Regions from separate parts of the Homo sapiens genome. Here regions 1 and 3 are each linked to region 2. The links come from fine-mapping of genetic effects on gene expression. A gene starts in region 2. Each other region holds a variant in brackets. All regions are shown on one strand. Distances are from middle to middle.

Region 1 (8,184 bases), 97 kb before region 2:
TGCAGTGGTGCAATCTAGGCTTAACTGCAACCTCTACCTCCCAGGTTCAAGCAATTCTCTGCCTCAGCCTCCCGAGTACCTGGGATTACAGGCGCCTGCCACCATGCCCAGCTAATTTTTGTATTTTTAGTAGAGATGGGGTTTCACCATCTTGGCCAGGCTGGTCTTGAACTCCTGACCTTGTGATCCACCTGCCTTGGCTTCCAAAGTGCTGGGATTATAGGCGTGAGCCACGGTGCCTGGCCTTTTTTTCACTTTTAAAAAGTTAAGATTATATTGTACATACTTCATGTAACCTGTTTCATCAATAAGACATATACCAGTGACAGTGACAACTATCATTTTCATTTTTTTTTTTTTTTTTTTGAGACGGAGTCTTGCTCTGTTGCTCAGGCTGGAGTGCAGTGGCGCGATCTTGGCTCACTGCAAACTCCGCCTCCCGGGTTCACGCCATTCTTCTGCCTCAGCCTCCCGAGTAGCTGGGACTACAGGCGCCTGCCACCACGCCCGGCTAATTTTTTGTATTTTTTAGTAGAGACGGAGTTTCACCATGTTAGCCAGGATGGTCTCGATCTCCTGACCTTGTGATCCGCCCGCCTCGGCCTCCCAAAGTGCTGGGATTACAGGTGTGAGCCACCGTGGCCCAGCCTATTTTTTTTTTTTTTTTTTTTTTTTTTAGCCTGGGTTGATTACCCTCTCTTCCTGAAGTTCTCTAGTCTCCTCACTTTATAATACTATTGCACTTTGGTTTCTTGTTTTTTTTTTTTTTTTTTTGAGACGGAGTCTTGCTCTGTCTCCCTTGGCTGGACTGCAGTGGCATGATCTCTCTGGCTCACTGCTACCTCTGCATCCTGGGTTCAAGCTATTCTGCCTCAGCCTCCCAAGTAGCTGGGACTACAGGCGAGTGCCGCCATGCCTGGCTAATTTTTATATTTTTAGTAGAGAGCGGGTTTCACCATATTGGCCATGCTGGTTTCTTGTTTTTTCTGTCTCTGAAGTATTATTTTTATTTTTTGACTCTTCTCCTACTTGCCTTTTCCCCCTTATTGTGGACACTCTAGAAAAAGTCCTTGATTTTCTGAACTTTGGTTCATTTTATCTTTTTTGAAAATACATCCGATCTCATGACTTCAACTGTTTTATCTATGGGAATGACCAGTAACTCTAGATTATATGTCTCTCGACTCTGGTCATTTTTATGAGCTTTATATTACCTTCTGTGTGAACTCTATTCTGTGTATCATATGATATAATAAAATAGATATTTTATAGACAATTTTTATTTTAGAACAATTTAATAAATTTTTTACTATAGAAAAATTAAAAACCGTGATTTCTCTTTTGGAAAAATTTCCTTGATATGCTTTTAGGGGTCCTACACAGTCAAATCTATTTGTGAACACTTGAATGCATCAGTTTTATAATTTTAATAATGGTAATAAAATTCCCCTTAATTATTAGAATGTCAGGATTAGAAATACTTGATATTAAATAGAAGTAAATGGATAAACATTGGGAGAATTTTAGAAATTGGAGAGTTCATGTTATCAAATAGCATTTCCATACTTTAATGATATGCAAGGAGCAGGACTGTTCAGAAATGACCCTGGTGTTGACTGAGACTAGGGCTCTCTCCTCCCAGCAAGATGCAGCACCCAAACTGAACTTCCCATAAGACTGGTAGTGCTTCCTACCTCTGGCACAGAAAACTGTAATTTCCCATAGATTCCAGATGCTGAACAGCTGGTGTTATGTAAAGAGCTAGCATCAAGTCTATACTCTGTCTGGTGCCTTTTTCCTGAAAAAGTTCTTTCCCTGATTGCCCTCTAAGAAGGAGGAACAACAAGTGGGTAGGGTCTTTTCATTGAATCTCCGACCCATACTGTGTGTCCACAGAGCATCCTGGTCCTGCCCCATCTTTCCTTAAGAGCAGTGGGAGTACGGGGTACTCAGGATTATTTTATTTTGCTGATATTGCCTTATGAGTTTCCTCCTTCCCCCAGTAAGACTGTTCTTTAACCCATGTCCTATAATGTAAATTTGAGTCTTGGTGTAGGATAGGTAGGCACTGAGAAGGGACCCGTCATGCATGACAAATAAGTTAGTTTGTAATCATGTCCTTACTTTTTCCCTCTCTCCTCATGGTGTAGGAATCTGAATTAGAGCCTATGAATGGTGAGATAATGGACGATTCTCTTAAGACCTCACTTATAACAGAAGAGGAAGACTCCACTAGTGAAGTTTTAGATGAAGAATTAAAATTGCAGCCTTTTAATTCCAGTGAAGACTCTACAAATCTTGTTCCACTGGTGGTAGAATCTTCAAAACCCCCTGAGGTAGATGCACCAGATAAGGTAAGGGGGCAATGAGCTATTTTTTAATAAAGTTTACCAATGTTGGTGACATTAGCGAGGAGGGTGCATGGTATATATATTTGCTTCCACCTTTACATGTACAGTGCTTTAGGAAGATTAACTTTTATACTAGATTTGATATTATAAGAAAATCAGTAATATTCTATAAATTCAAATAATAACCTTATTCATATCTGATATGTGGTAACAAAATGAGTTTTATTACTTTTAATACTTTGTAGTTAGGAAATGCTTAGAAAATTGGATAAAGCATTATTTACCAAATATTTGAGTACCTATATTTGTTACATAGACTATGACCAAAACAGTAATTTATATTTGTTTTAATTAGGCAGACAGATTAGGTTAGTGGGGGAAAAAACTTGTTGGAGTATTTTAAAAGAAATTTAATTTTGTTACTTTTGAATATTACAACTTATGGCTAAAAAACTGTTGTATGGCATTATTAGTGTCTCACCTAAGCAAAAGAATAAAACTTCCATTGCCCTAACTTATCTAATGAAATCGTAGTCAAACGTAGTGTGGTAGCGCAGTGAAGTCCCAAGGTATTTTTGGTTCTGGCTCCAGTAACACCAGGAAACTAAAAAAACTGAGTTGATTCATGGTTTTAAAGAATCTTGATATGAAGCTTAATGTGTCTTAATTATGAAATAATTATTTCATTATATCCTCAAAGTAATAACTTAGTATTAAAATTACCATGTGAAACAATTTTGAAGAAATTGAGTTGTATTCAGAATATATACACATATAGCAGAACAGAAATTCAAAAAAATACTCGATTTTGAGTAATGAATACCGAATTAAATTCTAGTTCAGTGTCACTGCATATTAGAGCCTGAGAATTTATTTTTAGAACTGTAGTACAAGTTTATTTGTTGACCAGGTTTTTAATTTTCAGACCCCACGTATACCTGACTCAGAAATGTTGATGGATGAAGGCACATCTGATGAAAAGGGGCACATG[G/A]AAGAGAAATTGTCCCTACTTCCAAGAAAGAAAGCACATCTTGGGAGTTCAGACAATGTTGCTACTATGTCAAATGAAGAACGATCTGATGGTGGTTTTCCAAACTCTGTGATAGCTGAATTTTCCGAAGAACCGGTCTCTGAGAATTTGTCTCCTAATACTACTTCCTCATTGGAAGACCAGGGTGAGGAGGGGGTATCTGAGCCCCAGGAAACATCTACTGCTCTTCCTCAGAGTTCTTTGATAGAGGTTGAACTTGAAGACGTGCCATTTTCACAGAATGCAGGACAGAAGAATCAGTCAGAGGAGCAGTCTGAAGCATCTTCCGAGCAACTGGATCAGTTTACACAATCGGCAGAAAAAGCTGTGGATAGCAGCTCAGAGGAAATAGAAGTGGAAGTGCCTGTGGTAGACAGGCGGAATTTAAGAAGAAAGGCCAAAGGGCATAAAGGACCTGCTAAGAAGAAAGCTAAGCTGACCTGAAGGAAGAAGAAAGTGGATGATAAATCCTCTTCTTTGTAACATAGTTGTTGTTTTTAAAATATGGTAATTAATAAACAGCATGGGGCACAGGACAAAAATTTCCAAAATTTCAATTTGAACTTACTTACTATGCAGTTTTTTGCTTCCCTTTAGAACGTAGAATTCACCATTGTTTTTAATTTTCCAGGCTATTTTTGGTAAATGCAATTTTTTATTTTTATTAACCATGTTTCAATTTTGGGAAACCAGATCATATTATATTTTCTTTATCAGGTGGTACATCTGACCATTATTTCAAAAATATAATTAAAAAGCTGTGAAAGTAGTAGGATTTCCATTACTTATAAGGATCACAGAAATCTTTTATACTAAGGGTTTTAATAGTAAAACTTGGTGAGGGTTCTAGAAGTTTTAAATTTCAAAACTAATCACCAATTTTTTAAAATGTAGGCATGCCTAAACAAAAATAAGTGTCAATAAATTAGAAAAAATATAACTTCAAGTAAATGAGAGCACAAAAACAGAAACTTACGGTCAAAGGTTCATGAAGATATTTTGGTTTTGGCCTCTTAATCCTAGATATAGATGCAGTTTTTTCCTTTGACTTCACTATCTATGGAAAGGTACACATAAAATCTGTTTCTGATTCATTCTATCATCTGATGTTAACAGTACTGTCAGGGATTTAACTGTGGCATGTGGGGACTAATTATTTAAAATTTCATTTGAAGTATTAGTTTGCTGTAATTTTTTTTGTCTGCATATGTGCAGACGCCTAGAAGTTTAGACTTTCACCTTTAATCAGGTAAAAATCACAACTATACTTTGGAGACATGGTTTAATTTGGACTTCTGGTCCTGATCAGATAGATAAATTAAGCTGGAGATTTTACTTTTATCCCAACCCAGTTAACATCTATATTTCAGAAGTATGAGGCTCCTTCCTAAGGCATCTCCTTAAATCTTGCCACCTCCCTAATTCTACAGTCTTATTTATATTCCCCCACAGCTTTCATCTACTTCTGTAACTCATGGAGTGATTCTCCAATCAACAGATCTTCCTGCCTGCCGGCTTATGCCCTTGATGTCCATTTTTGGGTAGGTTTGGAGGTGCACCCCACAATGTTAGACCTATATGGCAGGAGTAAAACTGCCCCCAGTGTTAGACCTATATGGCAGGGGTAAACTGCCTTTGGGGGAGCTGTGGTTACAAGGGCTTCAATCATATTGGAGGCTTCAATCATCCTTTGATTTGTACTGAGTACTGGTTGCAAGCTGGCCTGTTAAGTATATATTGTGTTGCCATAACAAAGGCCTAGGAAAATTTGAAGAAAAAAAACACTGAACTGTTATTTTTTGTAATTTATTTAAAAATGGACAAAATGGTTATTAGAATCCAAAGATAATCTAAAAACAGTTCTACTCTTTGGAAATATTATGTGTACTCAAATTTGCACTTAAGTTGGAGAATGTTTTGAGACCATTTAAATTGTTTTAAAAATAGCTTGATCTTGATCCTTATGCAAAAGAAACTAAGACTTTGTGTCATTATTTGAGGTAGCTAAGGACTGATGTTGAAAGTGTATTCAGTCTATAGTAAGCTGATGTCAGGTCAGTAAATTTTGTTTGGGGATGTTGGTATTTTCGATCAAGTTAAAATCTTAAAGCAGACAAAAATAGTAAACGCTCCTATTTGTGTTAGATTTTGAACAATTGTATTACCCTATATTTTCTTTAATTAGTCAAAGGTAAGCCAGATTATTTCATTCTAAATGAAAATTAAAGCACTTTGGCCATTTATTTTTTCAACAAATGCTAATACTAAGTAAAAAAAAAAAAGTATGACTACTATTAGTGAATCTACCAAACATTTATGCTGTTTTATACATTTTATGAGAAACTTCTGTCAATATCACAAAGGGAAATACTCTGTTAAGATTCAGTAAATTCTTAATCTTTACATGTTTCATTTCTTAGATTTGAAAACACTTGTAGATATTTTATTTTTACTTGGATTTGTTTAAAATACTTTCTTTTCAAATTATTTTAAACATGGAAACGCTTCATGAATTTGTGTCATCCTTGCACAGGGGCCATGCTAATTTTCCCTGTATTGTTCTAATTTTAGTATATGTGCTGCCGAAGTGAGCACTAAAAGACTTTCTTTAGACAAGTGTAGTTTTTTAAAGATTGAGCTCACTGGCTCAACTCTTGATGTGTGAATATAGTTGAGTTTACAAAAAATGTTTATTAATCATATATGACCATTGGGGGCTAACAGTATAAACTTATTCTTGTTAAACTTGTTTGGGTTAAATAGTAAGTGAATTGTAAACAATTTAGAAGTTTTTTGTTCAGCACACAAGAACACTTCTGTTACAGATTCTCTCTGACAGAAATTGTTATTTTGGGGTTTATAGATTATAGAGGGAAAAGTTAGATCACTTGGAAAAACCTAACTCTCATGTTCAGTAACTTGAGTATAGAATTTATACCACAATTTATCTTCAATAAGGAACCTACATGAACTTAATCAGTTATCTGTAGTTTTTGCAAGGCATTAGAAAAAATTTCACAATTACAGAGGACTGAAAATGTGATTTCAACCGGCTAGTCTAGTTGTTGAATGTCCAGTCACATTACACATAGTCCTTTGTGAACTTATTTGTGAAGGGAGTTCACTTTTTATGTACATACGTGTATATTTCCTTGTGTAATATAAAGCAGATGGTTATTAGTATTTTAGTTCTTTCAAGTTTAAATTATTCAATTGCTAGACATCACAGAAATTAGTATATTTAAGAATTTATTATAAAGCTCCTCTACAACTTTTAAAGGTGAGAGGGTCTATTATGATTTTTTTATAAAATCAAACAGCATGATTTAGAACGTCAGTCTTCTACTTAAAATGTGTCTATATTCATGGTATTTCCATTCAGTGTAGATGGTAAGGAAAACATCTAGTCATTAAAGATTTACTTATAGCAGACTCCAGAACACTACCTACAATGGGGTTTCAGTGACTAGAAATCTTGAAGGTTTATGATTGCATCAAATTGAGCCTGTACTAATATCTAAATATCTGCTCTTATGTTCTGCTTTATCCCTTGGGATTACCTTCTAAGGTTTGGTCACACCAGCAAACTGAAACAGATCTTAATGTACATAAAAAATTTATACTAATATTACTCATCTGTGTTACAGTATTTTGAAAAATGTTTCAGGTGTCATCTAGTCGTCTTTCATGGGTGTGATTAGTTACAAATGTTATGCTTATGTTTTCATACTTAATATCAAGCTTTCTTTGTACCTTACAAGATAGTATTTTTGGTTCTAAAAAAAACAAGCAAACTTCATTTTTGTAGTATCCAGAAATTACCTGGAGTCAGTATTTTTATTCGCCTTCTAGAACTTGTGATCCACACATCACCCATTTATATTAGTGGTAAAATTATCTGCTAAAATCTAATTGTAAGAAAGGCTTACCTTCTGTCATCAAGTGATTGTATCATCCTGGATCGTCATTTCCAAGGAACTAGCCTTTCTTTTCCTAAGCGTCTGTATGTGTTCTAAAACTTCCAGTATATATTTATAGAACTTAGAAAAAATGTTACATTATTCAGAGTAGCAAGTCTTACTGGAGTACCTATGTTTGTTTTCTTGGTTTTTATTTTTTTTTAAGTTTAAAAGTAGTAATTAAACCTATATTTTGTGATTGTTTCCTGGTCTGTGTTTTTAAATTCCTTTCCTTCAGTTTTCCTCATGAAGATGTTTCAGATACTGAATTTGTTTAGACATTGAATGACTTTGTTAAAGGCACAATTAATCACATTGGTTGTACTCTGAAGACAGACTTCTTTAAAAAAAAAATAAACAATTTAAAACAATGTGGTGATTATAGATTAATGTAATATACGCCATCCTTAAAACCACAACATATAACAGATCACAAAAGTGCTTTCACCAAGTTACAACCGTAAATCCTTACCTTTTTACATCATCTAAGTAACTGCAAATAAATTTCTCCTCAGGGAATCAGTGCAGTCTTCTTTTTCCTTTTAAAACTTAGCTGGAGTTACTTAAACTAATTCTTAATACTATTCTGAAAGTATAAATATATTGTTTAGAATACAGAAAATGCTAAGAGAGTACAAAGACTTTAGTATATTTTTTTCATTTTCATGATTCAAGTAGAAAATAGTGCCAAGTAGGTATTATTATACATGGTAAATGAGATGAAAAAAATGTTTAGAATGTGAATTCACTAGACCTTTGCTGTACTGGATTTCACAGGTGAAAAGATTTCTCTAAGATTTCTGAACTTTTAGTGTCTTCTCACATACTTCTAGTGTAAACAAAC
Region 2 (8,184 bases):
GTGGAGGTTGCAGCAGTGAGCCAAGATCGCACCACTGCACTCCAGCCTGGGTGACAGAACGAGACTCCATCTCAAAAAAAAAAAAAGTACCTTTTGTTGGTATCCAAAAATCAGAGAATATTAAATAAAAATTCTGTAAAGGCATTAAATATTGTAAAGGCATTAAATATTAATATTAATATTAAATACAAAAAAAGTACCTTTTGTTGGTATCCAAAAATCAGAGAATATTAAATAAAAATTCTGTAAAGGCATTAAATATTGTAAAGGCATTAAATGTTAAATACATAAAAATTCTGTAAAGGCATTAAATAAAAATTATGTAAAGGCATTAAATAAAAAAGATCAGACAGGCTTCAGAGCAATTGTTTTTGGTATCCAAAAATCAGAATATTAAATAAAAATGTAAAGGCACTAAATAAAAAAGATCAGATAGGCTTCAGGGCAACTGTTTAAATAATATTTTACAGATTTTGGTAAGCCAGAAGGTTATATATGCTACTTATGTGTAAGAACGTCTTATGCTTTTTTGCAGAAGAGGTCGGAAAATTCTGACATGTTTGGAAGTGTATGGAAGTTAACCAATGAGAGAATGGAATGGATGTAGGTGTTGAGGGCCCTTCTCATAGGAAAACCCTGACAGATTAAAAAGGAAATTAAGACCACCGAAATACATACTTACAAAAGGTTAAGATGGTAAATTTTATGTTATGTGTATTTTTTCCTTAATTAAAATTTTTTTAAAAAAGAAATTAAAGCTGCTGGCAGCTTTGAGATCAGAGTTGGAAGCTGGCTTAGAACCTTGACCCTAGGTAGTAAAATTCTAACAGAAAACTCAAAGGGCTGTGAGGCAGTATGTCAAAGGTATGTGGGTTAGTTTAGCCTTCCAGGAAATGAAGGAGTGAAGCTATTTGTTTATTTTTAAAAATGAGTGACTAGCATGTGATGAACGCTGTTCTAGAAGCTAAAGAAGCAGCTATGCATCTAACAGCCAAACTCTCTGCCTGCAAAAAGCATACTGTTTCAAAGCAAGGTTTGTGATACAACCTGGGCTCTTCAGAGACAGGGGCTATGTGATGCTGAACAATCTGGGGCCTAGACTGTGTGTTCCTGACCACGTCGCACTTTGTGAACACTCCCATATTTCCAAATCTTTCCAACTCCACTGTGCTTTTACTCTGAGATACCTGCTGCTCCTTCTGAGTTCCTAGAATGCTCACATGCATGCCTTCAAGTCTTAGCCATAAGGGCCAACACATTTTATGACCTGCTTCCTAATAATACCAGGCATAATTAATGGCTGCTTCACTCAGAGGCCATGAGTTAGGCAAACTCTTCAGGTAATCACCCGCACATGCCTTGAAATACCAAGCCTTGCCTTCGAACCATCTCAGCTGATTTAAGTCCTGGTTATCTACCTATTGTTAACTTACATCACCCATGCTTTCTTGTCACAGTCAGTTCAGCATATTACCAAGTCCTTGTTTTACTTAGCAGTATGACACAGAAGGAAAATCCAATTCTACAAGCTGAACTCCAAGGCAAACATAATAAGCGTGTTTGTTTTTAAAAAGATTTCCAACCCTAGTCATGATCTTCTGAGACAACCTTCATGTACTTTCCATGCAATCTTTCTGAATATCCCAATGCAACCAAACACTTTGGTTCTACATCTTAACCCCACTCTGGCCTTAGCAGATTGGATACCAAAGGCTCATTAGTGTGTGTGTCTAAAATAGAGACTGATAATACCCATTTAGTTGTACAAAACAGAAGGAAACCATGAGCCTTCTGATTGTAGAGAATGAACCATTTCTGCCATCAGCATCTTGGGCCTCTGCAGCTTGAGCCTAGGCACCTGTCCTATCTGGGGTCAGAACACATTATTCAGTTAGTTTGACATTCCCTCCCCACCTGTTCAGGGTCCTGCAAGCACACTTAAGCTCTATAGTATCCACTGGGTACAGCGACAGGCTTGGGGAATGCCAGGAGGCAGTACAGTTAGCACCAAATTACAATTCTGCAGGGCACGATACGCCTTCAGGACAGTCCCACCTACACAGGTCTCACACTGAGGGGACAGTGTGTGGCGTCTTCAAACATCTCCCCAGGGGAACCTGCCTTGTCTATGGTGTGATTGGCTGACTCCCATGACAAAACTCACCCTGTCTGCAGCCAAAGGGTGAGAGAGACAGAGGCGCTATCTAGGGGTCTGTAAAAGAGGAAGCAGGGAGAGCAGGCAACATGATCGGTGTTGAGAAACAAAGTTGGATACTGCCTAACCACTGACCGCAGAAACGTAGTCAGATGCAAACATGTCACATTTTATATGGAAGAGATTTTAGGAGAGAGGGCAGTTTTAGGCAGTGCTCGAAACTGAGGACTTCTGCCATTTGAGCTGTTACCAGGAGATGTGAGGAGAGGTGAGGGGGCGAAACTGGCCTATAAATGACAGTCAGCTTTGGGGGATTCCTGGTCCCTCAAGAGAGCTTGTCTAAGCCCTTCGGGTAACTTATCCCTTTGCACGTCCTTCAAATAAGGAGCTGTCACTTTCCTCCCCAGCTCCGGTGTCCCCTCCGTCCATGCCATTTGCCCAACAAGGCCTCAGAGCAAACTCCCTCTTCCACTTACTATCCGGCTCTCAAACCAGGGTTCCTGAGCACCCAAGGTGTCCCTTAAGAAGCAGTAGGAGGGTGGGGGCAAGAGCGTGGGTTCAGTCCATGTGGCGCTGGGCAGATCGCCTGCCAGCTCCCAGGCGGTTTCTCGTCTGCGCAGTGGGGTGGTGAGGGTCTGCACAGCGCTCCGGGGTGGTCCGCCTCTCCCCTCCCCCAGGACAACTCCCGGCCGGGCCGGGAGCGCTCACCGTCGAAACGCTTCCTCCAGCAGGGTGCAGGAGGGGCCCGCCGTGGAATTGGGGCTGTGGCTGATGTAGAAGTTCTCCGGGGCGAGATGCAGCAGGTTCGGGGTCATCTTCACCAAGAGCGGCAGGGGCCACAGCGCCGGCCCCGGCTTGGCCGAGACGCTCGGGGCCCGAGCCGCCTCCGCCACCTGCACCACCAGCGCCACCTGAGTCAGCAGCGCCAACATCGCCGCCAGCAGTGTCGCCAACAGCAGCGCCAGCAGCATGGGCGGCCGGGGCAGCCCCAGCCCGCACAGCTCCATGGCCGCTCGGCTGCTTTCCGCCCGGTCTGCCGAGCCGGAGCCTCGGGACCCGACTTCCCGCCCGGCCCGGATCAGAGGAAGCGCGGCCGCGGGTGAGTCACCGAGTCAGATGACTGCGCGCGCCCGCCCCCGACTCCGCCTCCAGGCCCCGGGAGCGTCCTCGCCCAGCCCGCCCTGTCCAGGTCACCTCGAGAATTTCCTCCAGGGGTGCCCTCGGGTAGGAGCAGAGCCCAGACAGCAACCTCAAACACGGGATGGCTAAAGTAAGAAAAATGCCCGGTGCTGGCCGTACGTGGTGGCTCACGCCTGTAGCCCCAGCACTTTGGGAGGCCGAGGCGGGCGGATCACCTGAGGTCAGGAGTTCAAGACCAGCCTGGCCAAATTGGTGAAACCCCGACTCTACAAAAATACAAAAATTAGCCGAGCATGATGGCGGGTGCCTGTAGTCCCAGCTACTCGGGAGGCTGAGGCAGGAGAATCTCTTGAACCCGGGAGGCGGAGGTTGCAGTGAGCCGAGATCGCACCACTGCACTCCAGCCTGGGTAACAGAGCAAGACTCCGTCTCAAAAAAAAAAAAAAAAAAAAAGAAAAGAAAAAGAAAACGGCCCAGTGCACAGGCTCGGGACGCCAGGCCGACACCGGGTCGCCGCTCACGCTGTCAACACGGGCGCTCTCCTGTGGATCCCTGGCTTCGGTGAAGCTGGAGAAGCCAAGCTTGAGGAGCACCTTTCTCCTCTCAGCCCAACCACCAGATAACCGAGATGAGAGCTGAGTTTATTTGCTCCTAAGTCTAGGCTTTTCTGTAACAGCACTTCAGCTGTGGTCAATAAAGCCTTCCTATCAGAACTCCCTGGGGCAGAGCATGCCCAAGGAATCCTGAGAGAGAACATCTTGGCTCATCTGTGTGGGTCCCGATATAAAGGATCCCAACTGACAAGTTTGATTTCATAACCCATCCCTAAGGAAGAGCCAGTGAAGTCACATGACGAACACGGACTGGAGATGCCAAAGGGAGAAGAGGTGTTCTCTTACCAGAAGGAGAAAACGCTAGGCAGACCAAAACCACAGATCTGCTATATAAGTATTCTGAAAATGAGGGTGGAAGAGCTTTAAGGAAAGACTTCAAAGAAATGTAATGATTAGGCCAGGTGCGGCGGCTCACGCCTGAAATCCCAGCACTTTGGAAGGCGAAGGAGGGCGGATCACAAGTTCAGGAGTTCGAGACCAGCCTGGCCACCAAAGTGAAACCCCGTCTCTATTAAAAATACAAAAATTAGTTGGGCGTGGTGGCGGGCGCCTGTAATCCCAGCTACTCAGGAGCCTGAGGCAGGAGAATCGCTTGAAACCGGAAGGTGGAAGTTTTAGTGAGCTGAGATCACACCTCTGCACTCCAGCCTGGGCAACAAGAACAAGACTCCATCTTAAAAAAAAAAAAAAAAGAAAGAAAAGAAATGTAATGATTATTGGGCCTCAGAAAATGAGACCCCAAAGTGTGGCACTTTGGCATGTTGAATACTTGGAACTGAAGAAAAGAGAGTCAGAAGATCTTTCTGACCTTCTCCTGCCTTTCTTTCTCCTGCTCCCCTTTCTTCCCCAGAGCAAGCCATAGAAACTAGAATTCCTCTTTTTCAAAATGGGTCACAGAAACTAGAGCCACTGTTGGGCATGGTGGCTCACGCCTGTAATCCCAGCACTTTGGGAGGCCAAGGCAGGTGGATCACTTAAGGCCAGGAGTTCGAGACCAGCCTGGCCAACATGGTGAAACCTCATCTCTACTAAAAATACAAAAATTAGCTGGATGTGCTGGCACACGCCCGTAATCCCAGCTACTTGGGTGGCTGAGGCACAAGAATCACTTGAACCTGGGAGGCAGAGGTTGCAGTGAGCCGAGATTGCACCACTGCACTCCAGCCTGTGCCACAGAGTAAGACTCTGTCTCAGAAAGAAAAAAAAAAAAAGAAGAAACTAGAGCCCCTATGCCCCCAAAGCCAGTCATAAAATCTAGAAATATTACTCTAATCTTGCCGTGTCTTTCTGTAGGAGCCAGCCATAAAGAGGTTCTCTGACCTACCTTGTCTGATAGTGGCTCTCAAGACTTTTGTTCCAGAGTGGCCCTGCACCGTATCCTGGAGGAAGGAATACCACACAGAGAGGCCAAGAAGAATTTGAACAGACACATCTTGCCAGGTTTCTCCTCTCTATTACCATTAGGTTGATCATATCCTTTTTGCCCAATCGCATTTCTGCCTGGCTGTCTGCTCTGCATCAAACCTAAACATCAAAATAGGCAGCTTTTCCTGGGTCTTTGAGCCTTCATTCTGAAGGCTCCCATGTCATGTAAAACTGATTAAATAAATCTGTTATGCTTTCCTTGTGTTAATCTGCTCTTTTGTTATAAGAGTGTCAGCCATGACTCATGATGGATGAGGAAAGGTATCACATCTTTCCACCCCTACATGGTGCATGTTTAAAATTCTTCCATAAAAGAAAACTTCAGTGGCACACTATTCTCCCCTATTCTTATAATTAAGACAAATATAATTTGCAATATCCATCTTTACTGCCACTTTTTACTGTCAATGGAAGCACGGCATAATGTTTCCAAGATTCAATCATCAATTTATGTTGTTGCAATTACTATATACTTAATTACAACTTCACATTGCATACTAGCTATCTATTGCTGTGTCACAAATTACTCCAAGATTTAGGAGCTTAAAACAACAACAGATAAATAATAAGATAAATATCTCACAGTTCTTGTGGTTCAGGAATTTAGGAGTCTTAGCTGGGTGATTCTGGATTAGATTATCTCATGAAGTTGCAGTTGTCTGAAGGTTTTTTTCTTTAGGCTTGGCTAGTGCTGGAGGATCTTCTTTTTTTTGTTTTGTTTTGTTTTTTTTGAGACGGAGTCTCGCTCTATCGCCCAGGCTGGGGCGCAGTGGAGCCATCTCGGCTCACTGCAAGCTCCGCCTCCCGGGTTCACGCCATTCTCCTGCCTCAGCCTCCGGCGTAGCTGGGACTACAGGCGCCCGCCACCACGCCCGGCTAATTTTTTGTATTTTTAGTAGAGATGGGGTTTCACCGTGTTAGCCAGGATGGTCTCGATCTCCTGATCTCATGATCTGCCCGTCTCGGCCTCCCAAAGTGCTGGGATTGCAGGCGTGAGCCACCGCACCCAGCCCCGGAGGATCTACTTCTAAGTTAACTTGCATGGCTGTTGGCAACAGATCTCAGTTTCTTGCTGGCAACTGGCTGAAAGCCTGAGTTACTTGCCATACCCACAATATAGCAGCTGGCTTCTCCCAACCAAATGATCTGAGAAAGACAGCAAAGAGGAAGCCACAATGCCTTTATATAGCGTAATCTTGTAAGTGACATGCATCACTGCTACCACATTATATTCCTTAGAAGTAAGTCACCGAAGAGTTTAAGAGTGGATCTCAGATGCAAGGAAATTGAAGGCTAGAAGACTAGGAAGAGATAAATTATCGGTGGGAATGACTGTGGGCATTTAGGAATTAGGGTGATGGAGGGTGGTTTCAGGAAGATTTGGAGTTACATTCACCAAGCCCTGAGATCTTGTGAAACTATCAGATCTCTTTTTTATTGCACCCCGTTATTAACTCTGACTCATTATTTAAAAGGGTGCTATAACACGGGAACAATATTAACATACTCATGGTTGGGTTAGATTTTATTTTTTAGAAATGGGGTCTCACTATGTTACTCAGGGTGGACTTGGGCTTGGGCTCAAGCAATCATGTCTCAGCCTCCTGAATAGTTAGTACTACAGGCCTATACCAATACACCCAGCTTGGGTTATATTTTAAATCAGGGTTTCTCAACCTCAGCACTAGTGACATTTTTGGCTAGATGGTTTTTTGTTCTGGGGAGCTGTCCTGTGCATTACGTGATGTTTAGTAGCAACTGGGCTCTACTCACTGGTCGTCAGTAGCACCACCCCCAACCCCTGAGCCTCAGTGGTAAAAAACATAAATGTCTCCAGATATTGCCAAATATCACCTTGTTGAGCTCCATTAGTCTAAGTAATAATCACTACAACTTATTCACCAACAACAAGGTGCCAGACATATTATTATCATCCTCTTATTTTATCCCCAAACAACTTAAGAGGTAGGTTTTATTGTCCCCATTTTAGAGGACTATGTTGAGGCTCCAGGGCCCCGAAGAACTAAATGGTTTGCTCACGATACCACAGCTAATTAAAGCTAACGCATGGAATTGAAACAACATGGAGCTGAAACAAAGTTTCCCCAGATGACTGAAATATGAAAAAGTGGACCACTATGGATTTACAGCAAATGTGTTTCCACTGAATTCATTTGTATGGTATCTGGTTTCCCTGAGGACCTTTCTAAACATGTAACACCATTGCTTAAAATGCATCACTGGATTTTTACTTTCTATAGGGTAAAATCAGACCTTTAATTAAAGACCATCAACCTACTAGTCTAATCAGAATCTGAATCAAGTTTCTCCACCTGGGTGCACTGTGTGCTAAATATCCCCAAAATGGAATCCTAACATGTGTACCTGCTGTTATTTTTCCCTTGCTTTTATTTTTCCCACATTCAAGGGGAGGGGAATTAGCTTCCACCTTTTGAAGGGAGGAGTATACTTTCTGACCACAAATTATTTCTATTTCTTCCATGCAAAACACATTCCCTTTCTCCCAAGAACCCCAAAAATCTCATCCCTTTAGAAAAGCAGCTTGAAATCCAGAATGTTAGCATATAAATTACATCCAGGTGTGGGTGAGATTCCTAGGATGCAGTTCCTTAAAGTTCTTCAAGTACAGTTCCTCTTAGTGTGAAGACCTGTGAACTAAATGCAAGTTATCTGCCTCCCACTCCTCCCCGACACAAAAATACAGTGGTGGACAGGTGTAAAATAACCACTGTAAACATTCCTGTTCAAAAAGGGAAAAATGAGAGGCAACAACGAGTCTGTAGCAATTCCAAAATCCAGCCAGGCAAATGTTGAAGTTCCTTGATCCGG
Region 3 (8,184 bases), 53 kb after region 2:
AGTGGTCCAAGGCTGCCCCCATGCTGGTGGCCAGGTTTGGCCATGGCTCTGCTGAACTGAAGCACTGCCTGTATGTGGTTGGGGGGCACACGGCCGCAACTGGCTGCCTCCCGGCCTCCCCCTCAGTCTCTCTAAAGCAGGTAGAACATTATGACCCCACAATCAACAAATGGACCATGGTGGCCCCACTCCGAGAAGGCGTTAGCAACGCCGCAGTAGTGAGTGCCAAACTTAAGTTATTTGCTTTCGGAGGTACCAGTGTCAGTCATGACAAGCTCCCCAAAGTTCAGTGTTACGATCAGTGTGAAAACAGGTGGACTGTACCGGCCACCTGTCCCCAGCCCTGGCGTTACACAGCAGCAGCTGTGCTGGGGAACCAGATTTTTATTATGGGGGGTGATACAGAATTCTCTGCCTGCTCTGCTTATAAATTCAACAGTGAGACTTACCAGTGGACCAAGGTGGGAGATGTGACAGCAAAGCGCATGAGCTGCCATGCTGTGGCCTCTGGAAACAAACTCTACGTGGTTGGAGGATACTTTGGCATTCAGCGATGCAAGACTTTGGACTGCTACGATCCAACATTAGACGTGTGGAACAGCATCACCACTGTCCCGTACTCGCTGATTCCTACTGCATTTGTCAGCACCTGGAAACATCTGCCTTCTTAAATGCAGTACATTCTAAAGAGAGTGAGCATGAGGTAAGAAGTTTAGCTATAGATGTAAGTATGCATATAATTAGGCTATTGTGTAAGTTCAGTACATGGGGTGAGATCTGATCCACAGAGACTGTACTGCAGAAGTACTACCAAAGCTGTAAAAATAAGAGAGCTGGTGCCCCTAGAACTTATCCACTTGTGTTGACCACAGCCTCAGCCCCCACCATGGCATTAGCCAGTGGTTCTCAGCTTTTACTGAGCCTCAGAATCTCCTGAAGAGCTTTTTATTTATTTTATTATTATTATTATTATTTGAGACAGAGTCTCGCTCTGTCACCCAGGCTAGAGTGCAGTGGCATGATCTTGGCTCACTGCAAGCTCCGCCTCCTGGGTTCACACCATTCTCCTGCCTCAGCCTCCCGAATAGCTGGGATACAGGCGCCCACCACCAGGCCTAGCTAATTTTTTGTATTTTTAGTAGAGACGGGGTTTCACCATGTTGGCCAGGATGGTCTTGATCTCCTGACCTCATGATCCGCCCGCCTCGGCCTCACAAAGTGCTGGGATTACAGGCATAAGCCACCGCACCCGGCCCTGAAGAGCTTTTTTAAAAACTGCCCATCCCAGAGACTTAGTTTCATTTGGTCTGGGGTGGGGTCCAAGCATCAGTATTTTTAAAAAGTTTCCGGATGATTCCAATGAACAACCAAGTTGAGAACCCCTGACCTCTGTTAAGTATGCCAGCTAATGTTTATTGAGCCCTCACTGTGTGCTTGCAGCGGTGCCACGTGTTTCCCACGGATCATCTCATTCTATCCTCACAACAACCCCGTGGGGAATTATTACTAGCTTCATTTTATAGATGAAAAAACCTTCATGCATTACGGAGGCTAAGCTGCCCGAGTTAGCAGAGCTTAGTAAGAGGTGGAGCTGGTTAGGAAGTCAATGCAGGGGGTCTGGCTCTAGGGCATCAGCACTGGAGCATCGTGTTGCACTGCCACCGAATAAACTTGAGCTTCACATCCATGACACCAATGTCATCCCAGGTGATACTTCATTTATATTCAAATTTTGCTTCCTCAAACCCTTTGTAGAATGATTAGGGTTTAAAAATGTATTGCTCAAATTCATTCCTAGTTTATTCTCTCCAAAATTATTAGCTTATTTTAAATGTTTTACTTAAAAAGTAGCCCCCTTTAAGGCGTTTATTACCTTTAAAGATAAATCTATATCTGTCTTTGTAAAAGGTTGCATGTACATAGCAGAAATTTGTGCAGATAACACAGAGCCACCTAAACTTCCCAAACTATGGCCTTTCAGAGTTAATCAGTCAGGCCGACCCTATTGTCAAGGCTAACAAAAGTTGTGTTTCTGAGTCATATATCTGAGTACATAATAGTTGTCTGTGTATTTAAGAGTATAGAATACTCTTGGCTCAAATAATTAATAGGCCTACACAGTTCAGAGTTCGCAAAGCTCACGGCTGCTTTGCTGCTAAGCATTCTTAGGATTGGCCCCAGGAATCGCTTAGGCATGTGTAAGTATAGCCCAGCGCACACAGGATGTGTTGACTTGTTTTGGTGATTCATGGGCTTATTACTAATAATAAGAGAAGAAAGTAACTGCTTTGGAGGAACTACAATGAAAACAAACTCATTTACTTGGGAACTTTTGGCTCTGTTTTCCCTAGTATGTTTCACACCTTTGAAGGGGACTTCAAAGGGAGAAAAGGAGATCTAGGCCTAGTGGCAAGCTAAGCACAGAGGGGTTTCATCTCATTGGTCTTTTCTTTCCCTGTCCCTTACAGCTCATTTAGAAACATCATTAAACTTGGCCTCACTCTCACATTTCAGCTTGCCATTTTATTTTCTTTTTGAGACAGAGTCTTATTCTATTTCCCAGGCTGGGGTGCAATGGTGCTATCTCAGCTCGCTGCAACCTCCGCCTCCTGGGTTCAAGGGATTCTCCTGCCTCAGCCTTCCAAGTAGCTGGGATTACAGTGCCCGCCACCACGTCGGGCTTTTTTGTATTTTTAGTAGAGATGGGGTTTCACCATGTTGGTAAAGCTGGTCTTGAACTCCTGACCTCAAGTGATCCACCCATCTCAGCCTCCCAAAGTGCTGGGATTACAGGCGTGAGCCACCGCACTTGGCCTCCAGCTTGCTATTTTTTTTACTTCTTCAGTTATCTCTTCCAGCCTTCGTACAGTTATCAGAGTTCTGAGTTATGTCATGCTTTCCTGGAATGAAACTCCTTCAAAGCAGCAGGAACAATCAGACACCTCCTCTGGGGAGCAACTGGGCTAATAGTGTCTCACACCAAACTGGTTTTTTGTAGCCTTGCTGGCATCTCAGTAATCTTGAATAAACAAATGCTCTGAAAGTGGTTATTTCATTTGAGATATGAATGCATGACTCACCTCTAAAGCAGGTTTAAAGAACCTCCTAGGCGAAAGCATCAATTAACAGCACACTTAGTTGGGTGTTAGTCCAGAACTGACTATATTTGCACAGAAGAGCCATAAAAATTGCTACCAGGGTGGTGGTACATAAAAAATGACAATGGGCAGGCTGGCTGGAATCCTTGGAACAAGGTAAGGAAATTGAGGCAGAAAGAGGAGAGAAGCCACATGTGTATTCTGGCCCTAGTTTTAAGTTCTAGACCTTCCTGAGTTTTAGGTTGCTTCTCTGTCAAATGAGTGGTTTGATCTTTAATCTCCTGTGATCTGTCCCAACTCAGACTTGGGTCAATTGATAGGGGAGTTAAAAGAGGCGAAAATACCTAGCCCAGTGCTTGACGTGTAGTAACTTACTGTGAGATAATGGCAGTGGAATTAGCTTTCTGTGTGGTAGGAAAATGAGGTTTCTTTGACTATTATCTGCTTGTTATCTTTAGACTTCACTTTTGGTTCCTCCTTTTTCAGCCCAGAGTGAACATGTTGGCAAACACTTGACTTCACCCTACCCTGGGTGTTTGAACTGAATCATACCCTTCCGGTCGCTGGGAAACAGAGCAAGTAAAGTGTTAAGTTATATGTGAAATAACATCCTCTTCACCCTTGGCGCTACCAGTGAGAGAGTCAAGCACATGAAAACTAAATTTGACAGGGCCAAGTTTGCTGCTTTTAAAGGGCAGCGTAAGCGCCTGATCAAAGCCACTCTTTGAATTTCCGACAGGGAGAATGTTGGTTAAAATTTCTAAAGTTTACTACACAAGATAGTGCTAAAACATTTAAGAGGGGGTTGGAGTGCCTTAAAGTGCTGGGTAGGTGGGTCTCAGTCCCAAACTGCAAATTCCTCTGCCCTCCAAATGTAGGTGCTAACGGAATTAATAGAGTGTTTAACAGAAAGTTTCCCTAGGTCTTAAAGCTCATCCACCTAGGAGGTTTTATCTGCCTCCTGCTGCTCTGCCAGTGGGTGGGAAGGGCAGAAAGGAAATTACTTTGATTATCCTCTGTTTTCATGGTGCCGTGTGGCCTCAACCTAACTTAGGCTTTGATTTGCTTTGTTTCTTCTCTAGATTTTGTTGTTGTTGTTGTTGTTGTGTGTCCTTTTTTTTTTTATTATCGTTCCTGTTTGAATATGCAATTTTTTGGGGGGAGGGTGTGTGTATTCCTTTTTTCCTGTTTGAATATGCATTGTCTTGAAATTTTATATTATTATAAGATACATTCTTT[TG/G]GCCTAATGTTGACATATAGGTTACAAGGAGGTGGAGGTGGGGCAATGACACCGTAGTCTAAGGCATGCCTTGAAAGCTTGAATCACTGTTAGGAAACAGCCAAAAGAAACAACTCATGAAATGAATCAGGCTTCTGAACACACAAAAGCAAAGAATTCAGTGCAAGGTCATGAGTGGCTCCTCCAGAATTCCCTTTGTCTGTACTTAGACTTACAGCAATAGGGATACAAAAGCCCTCTGCACAATTTCCCCAGATGAAATGAGAAATAAATAAATGGGAAGAGTAAGCAGTGTGAGGAAATGCAAGCTCTATGAAATGTGCAGGCTTTGTGGTTACGGCACTTTGAATTGATATTCACACTTGATGTACGTAGATTCTGTAGCACTGGCATGCCGTAGCTGCTGGCACCTACGTGTGGACTGACGAACTTTGAGAATAAACTCCAAACTTGGGCTGTTGAGGCCTGATACATTGTCATGTGAAAGGAAGCGAGACTGATTTCTGCCATAATGGATAACAGAGATGCATTTAAATAAGAGGATTAGTATGTCTGCCTCCTAGATGGTAAAGTTAATTTGGAATCTTTCATGGTACATGGGCCAAGGAGGGTTTGCACAGGAATCTCCCTTCTTTTCACCCCTTAGTGATCACTTTACAGTCGCTCTGTTTAACCACAGAAAGAAATTTTATGAATGTTGGAAGCAGAAGATGGCAACTCCTAATAGCATCTAGACATATAGGTTTGGATTTGAAAGTGTGTATGCTTAGGAAAGAAGTGAAGGTCCTTCTTTAGACACCACTGTTTTTGTCAGGCCAGCCATCTGCATGGATGTGTACGTGCACACGTGTGTGCATTTAAGGCAAGTACTTTAAATATCTTTGCACAGTTCCTACTGAACATGTAAGACCTTTGGAAGCAATATTGTCCAGCTCCATACCAAGTTTAATTTAAAAAAAAATTTTGTGGCTAATAAGAAAAATTTAAAAACTATGGCATCACACAAATCCTTCATGCTTTTTTGTTTTGTTTTTTTTCCTTTTCCTTCTATTTCAGCTCACTCCATCACTCGATGAGATAATATGAGATTTCTACTTCGGAGAGGCCAAGTCTAATGAAGAGAAAAAAAGGAAAAGAAGTTGCAAGACTCGAATAAAATCTGCTGCACCTTGTAAATGCTCTAACTGGACATGAAGGAAAGGGGCGAGGGAGGGGGGTGGGATTTTTGGTGCAAGTAGCACATGGTTTAAATATGAATGAACAAACCTGTGATCTAGTCCTTGTCTTGTAATTGTGGATTAATGTCAATGTTAATCAGCCCCTCAAAGGGAGAGAAAAGCTGGACCTTTTCCCTTGCTGTACCATATTCAGCATTTGATTTCCATGGGCCCCACCATTTATGTGTAGAATTTGAAATGGTTGTCACCTCTCTCTGAGGACAGAGCTTGAAGCCTCCACACCAGCTGCTGCTGGAGATTCAAAGCCCAACTGTGGGTCCGAGAGGGAAGCTGGCTGGGCTGGCTGAAGAATGAAGACCACTGGACTCTCCGTTAATCTCTAAGGGGTCTGCTCCCCAGGAACGTTTCTGAACAATGGGGACTTTGTTGGTAGCCATTTGGTAGATGTTCTTTTCTATTTATAAGTGACTTTAAACTTTCCCTTGGCTGTTAAGAAGTTTGTTATAGATTTAGCTATTTATTGTTCGATGCCTGCATGCTGAAACAATGCCTACAGCTGTCTTCACATGTATGGACGTGTGTGAATGGTTGTACGTTTTGCACATTTTGTGGCTGTTGAGATGTGCTTTGCTGCACAAACATGAAAATTTTTGAGTTACAATTTGGAGCATAACTGGAGGGTGGGTTGGGGAGGGGTGGATTTTTAAAATGTCAAGACAGGGAAGGATGACAAAATGGAAATTTAAATGACATCCTAGAGGTAGAGAAACCGTGGAGATCGCTTTTCTCAGACTCACCAACTTTTAATGGGATTTCATGGGGTTTGGTTGTGCTGATAGGGTAAGGGGAGGCTGCTTTCTGCCCTTCTCCCCACTCCCATCTGATTTACTTAATTCAGTCTCAGCTGCTGAAATTTGGAAAGGACCAAATTGCTTTACAGTTTTTTTCTTTGTGTAGTATCTTGAAATCCTGGAAAATTCTATGGAATAGTTCTGTATATAGGGCACAAGTAAAGGCATTGTCCAAAGTTTATTTATTTATTTATTACCCTAAGAATGCTTTGCCATAACCACATTTAATGGGAAAAACGGCAGTATCACAGATGTAAATTAACTCACCAGATTTACTGGGCCTGAACTCATTCTCTTCTTGCTATATGATTTAGCAAGTTCTAGAAGGTCTCCAAGACAATAATTACATTGGCACAATGTATACTTCAGTGCTCACCCGTAGGCAAATCTCTTTTTAAAAAACTCTTTGGTGCACAAGTAACACATTTGGCCACAAAACACCAAAGAATTGTAGGCAGTGGCCCCTATTGAGAAGTTTTCCGGTAGAGTTGGAAATCAGTTGTGAATACATTCTTTGCTAGTTGGAGTGCTTGTTTACTAAGCATGTGCCGTCGTAGGTATTAGTGCTAGTCTCAGATAGGTGCTTCCCCTGAGGTGCAGGGGAAGACCAAAGTTTGCAACTCGAACTGCTTTCGTCCATGTTTCTCACATTGCTGTATTTTAGAAAATAGGGGTTAAGACTGATAACAACCTTTTACATTGTGACTGTGTTTGCATTGTCTAATGACAGATAAATCCTTAACATTTCTCTCCACCTTAGTACTTTAGACTAATTGTGTTTGTCCGTCCATGCCATGAATGAGTGGGCTGTAGTTGGGCCTAAATAAATGAGCTGTTGGAAGAAAAGAATCACAGTACTTTCCAGCAGTCAGTCCCTGGTTCCTAGATGTGTTCTAAGCAATGCAAATGTCTAATTGTCCCCCAGTGGGCATAGTCAGTGTCGTTTATATTGTAGCAGTTACAGCTCTGTAGTTTATGATGCAAATCTGCCAAGAGAGATGTATGTGTCACTGCATGGCTTCTGAAAGCAGGATGAATTTTCTGCAGCTGTTTCAAAGTTGGGGTCTGTTCTTGAATCCTCTATTAATTACTGTGTGTGAGCCAGAGGGAGCTGTGGTAAGGGTTGGGCCCCCAGCCTGTAGGGAACTTTCTGGACTCCCACTCTTTGAATCGATATAGGCATTTGGTCTCACTACTTGACCATTCTCACCCTGTGAAACGTCCCACACTTTGAAGCAAATACAATTCACAGCACAGTACACACAAAAACCTTGGCATAAGACAGAGAAGGTTCTTCTTATTTTGTGGGCTGGTTGCTGTAGAAACACATAACAAAGGGCAGCCCTCCACTTCTGGTATAATTGTGTAGCCCCTTTTCTTTGGGCTTGACACCTGTCTTGAATAAGAGTGATTAGAGCTGCATAATGTCCCTCTCTTGGCTATTGACCATGTGGTTCACGTACAAAACTCTGTATAAGTTGAAGGAAAATGTTCATGTTCATATGTACTTGTTTGCTATGACTACATTTTGAGGTTTTGTAAAACTGTTATTTTTTTTTTTTTCACAATGTGAAACTGAAGGTCAATAAATTATTAGAGATTTTCTCTTCATTATGTGTGTGGGTCTTCATTTGAATAAGACACAATTTGAGGCATTGTAAACGTGTGCCTTTTCTCGTTTATCCAAAGAAGGATCATTTCAGATATTCCGAACGTGTTTTATTTCACCATTTAGTGATATTTACAAAGGTAATTTTGCATATTAAATAAAACTTCCTGACCATTAGAGTATCTCTTTAAGCAAGACAAAATTCCTC

The links. PIP is the estimated chance that this variant, and not a neighbour inherited with it, causes the effect.
Region 1: its variant is the best candidate, but not a certain one, in a credible set for the expression of HEXB in whole blood (TOPMed, PIP 0.79).
Region 3: its variant is the best candidate, but not a certain one, in a credible set for the expression of HEXB in whole blood (TOPMed, PIP 0.52).

Annotation. Positions count from the first base shown.
Region 1 is chr5:74,777,101-74,785,284 of GRCh38, reverse strand. NSA2 (NSA2 ribosome biogenesis factor) reads right to left here. Exons shown (of 6, transcript NM_014886.6): 6 at 5,172-8,184. It overlaps FAM169A (family with sequence similarity 169 member A), which reads left to right. Exons shown (of 13, transcript NM_001376049.1): 12 at 2,151-2,354; 13 at 3,277-7,711. The coding sequence ends at 3,825. It also overlaps the pseudogene RNU6-1330P. Among named protein-coding and RNA genes, the nearest start is that of NSA2, 14 kb to the right of the region's middle. The variant G/A (reference allele first, on the strand shown) is at 3,343.
Region 2 is chr5:74,680,239-74,688,422 of GRCh38, reverse strand. HEXB (hexosaminidase subunit beta) reads right to left here and starts at 3,190. Exons shown (of 14, transcript NM_000521.4): 1 at 2,864-3,190. The coding sequence starts at 3,162. RefSeq lists enhancers at 2,213-2,302, 2,313-2,362, 2,423-2,472, 2,978-3,478 and a silencer at 3,163-3,502.
Region 3 is chr5:74,627,203-74,635,386 of GRCh38, reverse strand. It overlaps ENC1 (ectodermal-neural cortex 1), which reads left to right. Exons shown (of 3, transcript NM_003633.4): 2 at 1-703; 3 at 5,395-7,978. The coding sequence ends at 671. Among named protein-coding and RNA genes, the nearest start is that of ENC1, 9.4 kb to the left of the region's middle. RefSeq lists an enhancer at 3,665-4,478. The variant TG/G (reference allele first, on the strand shown) is at 4,338.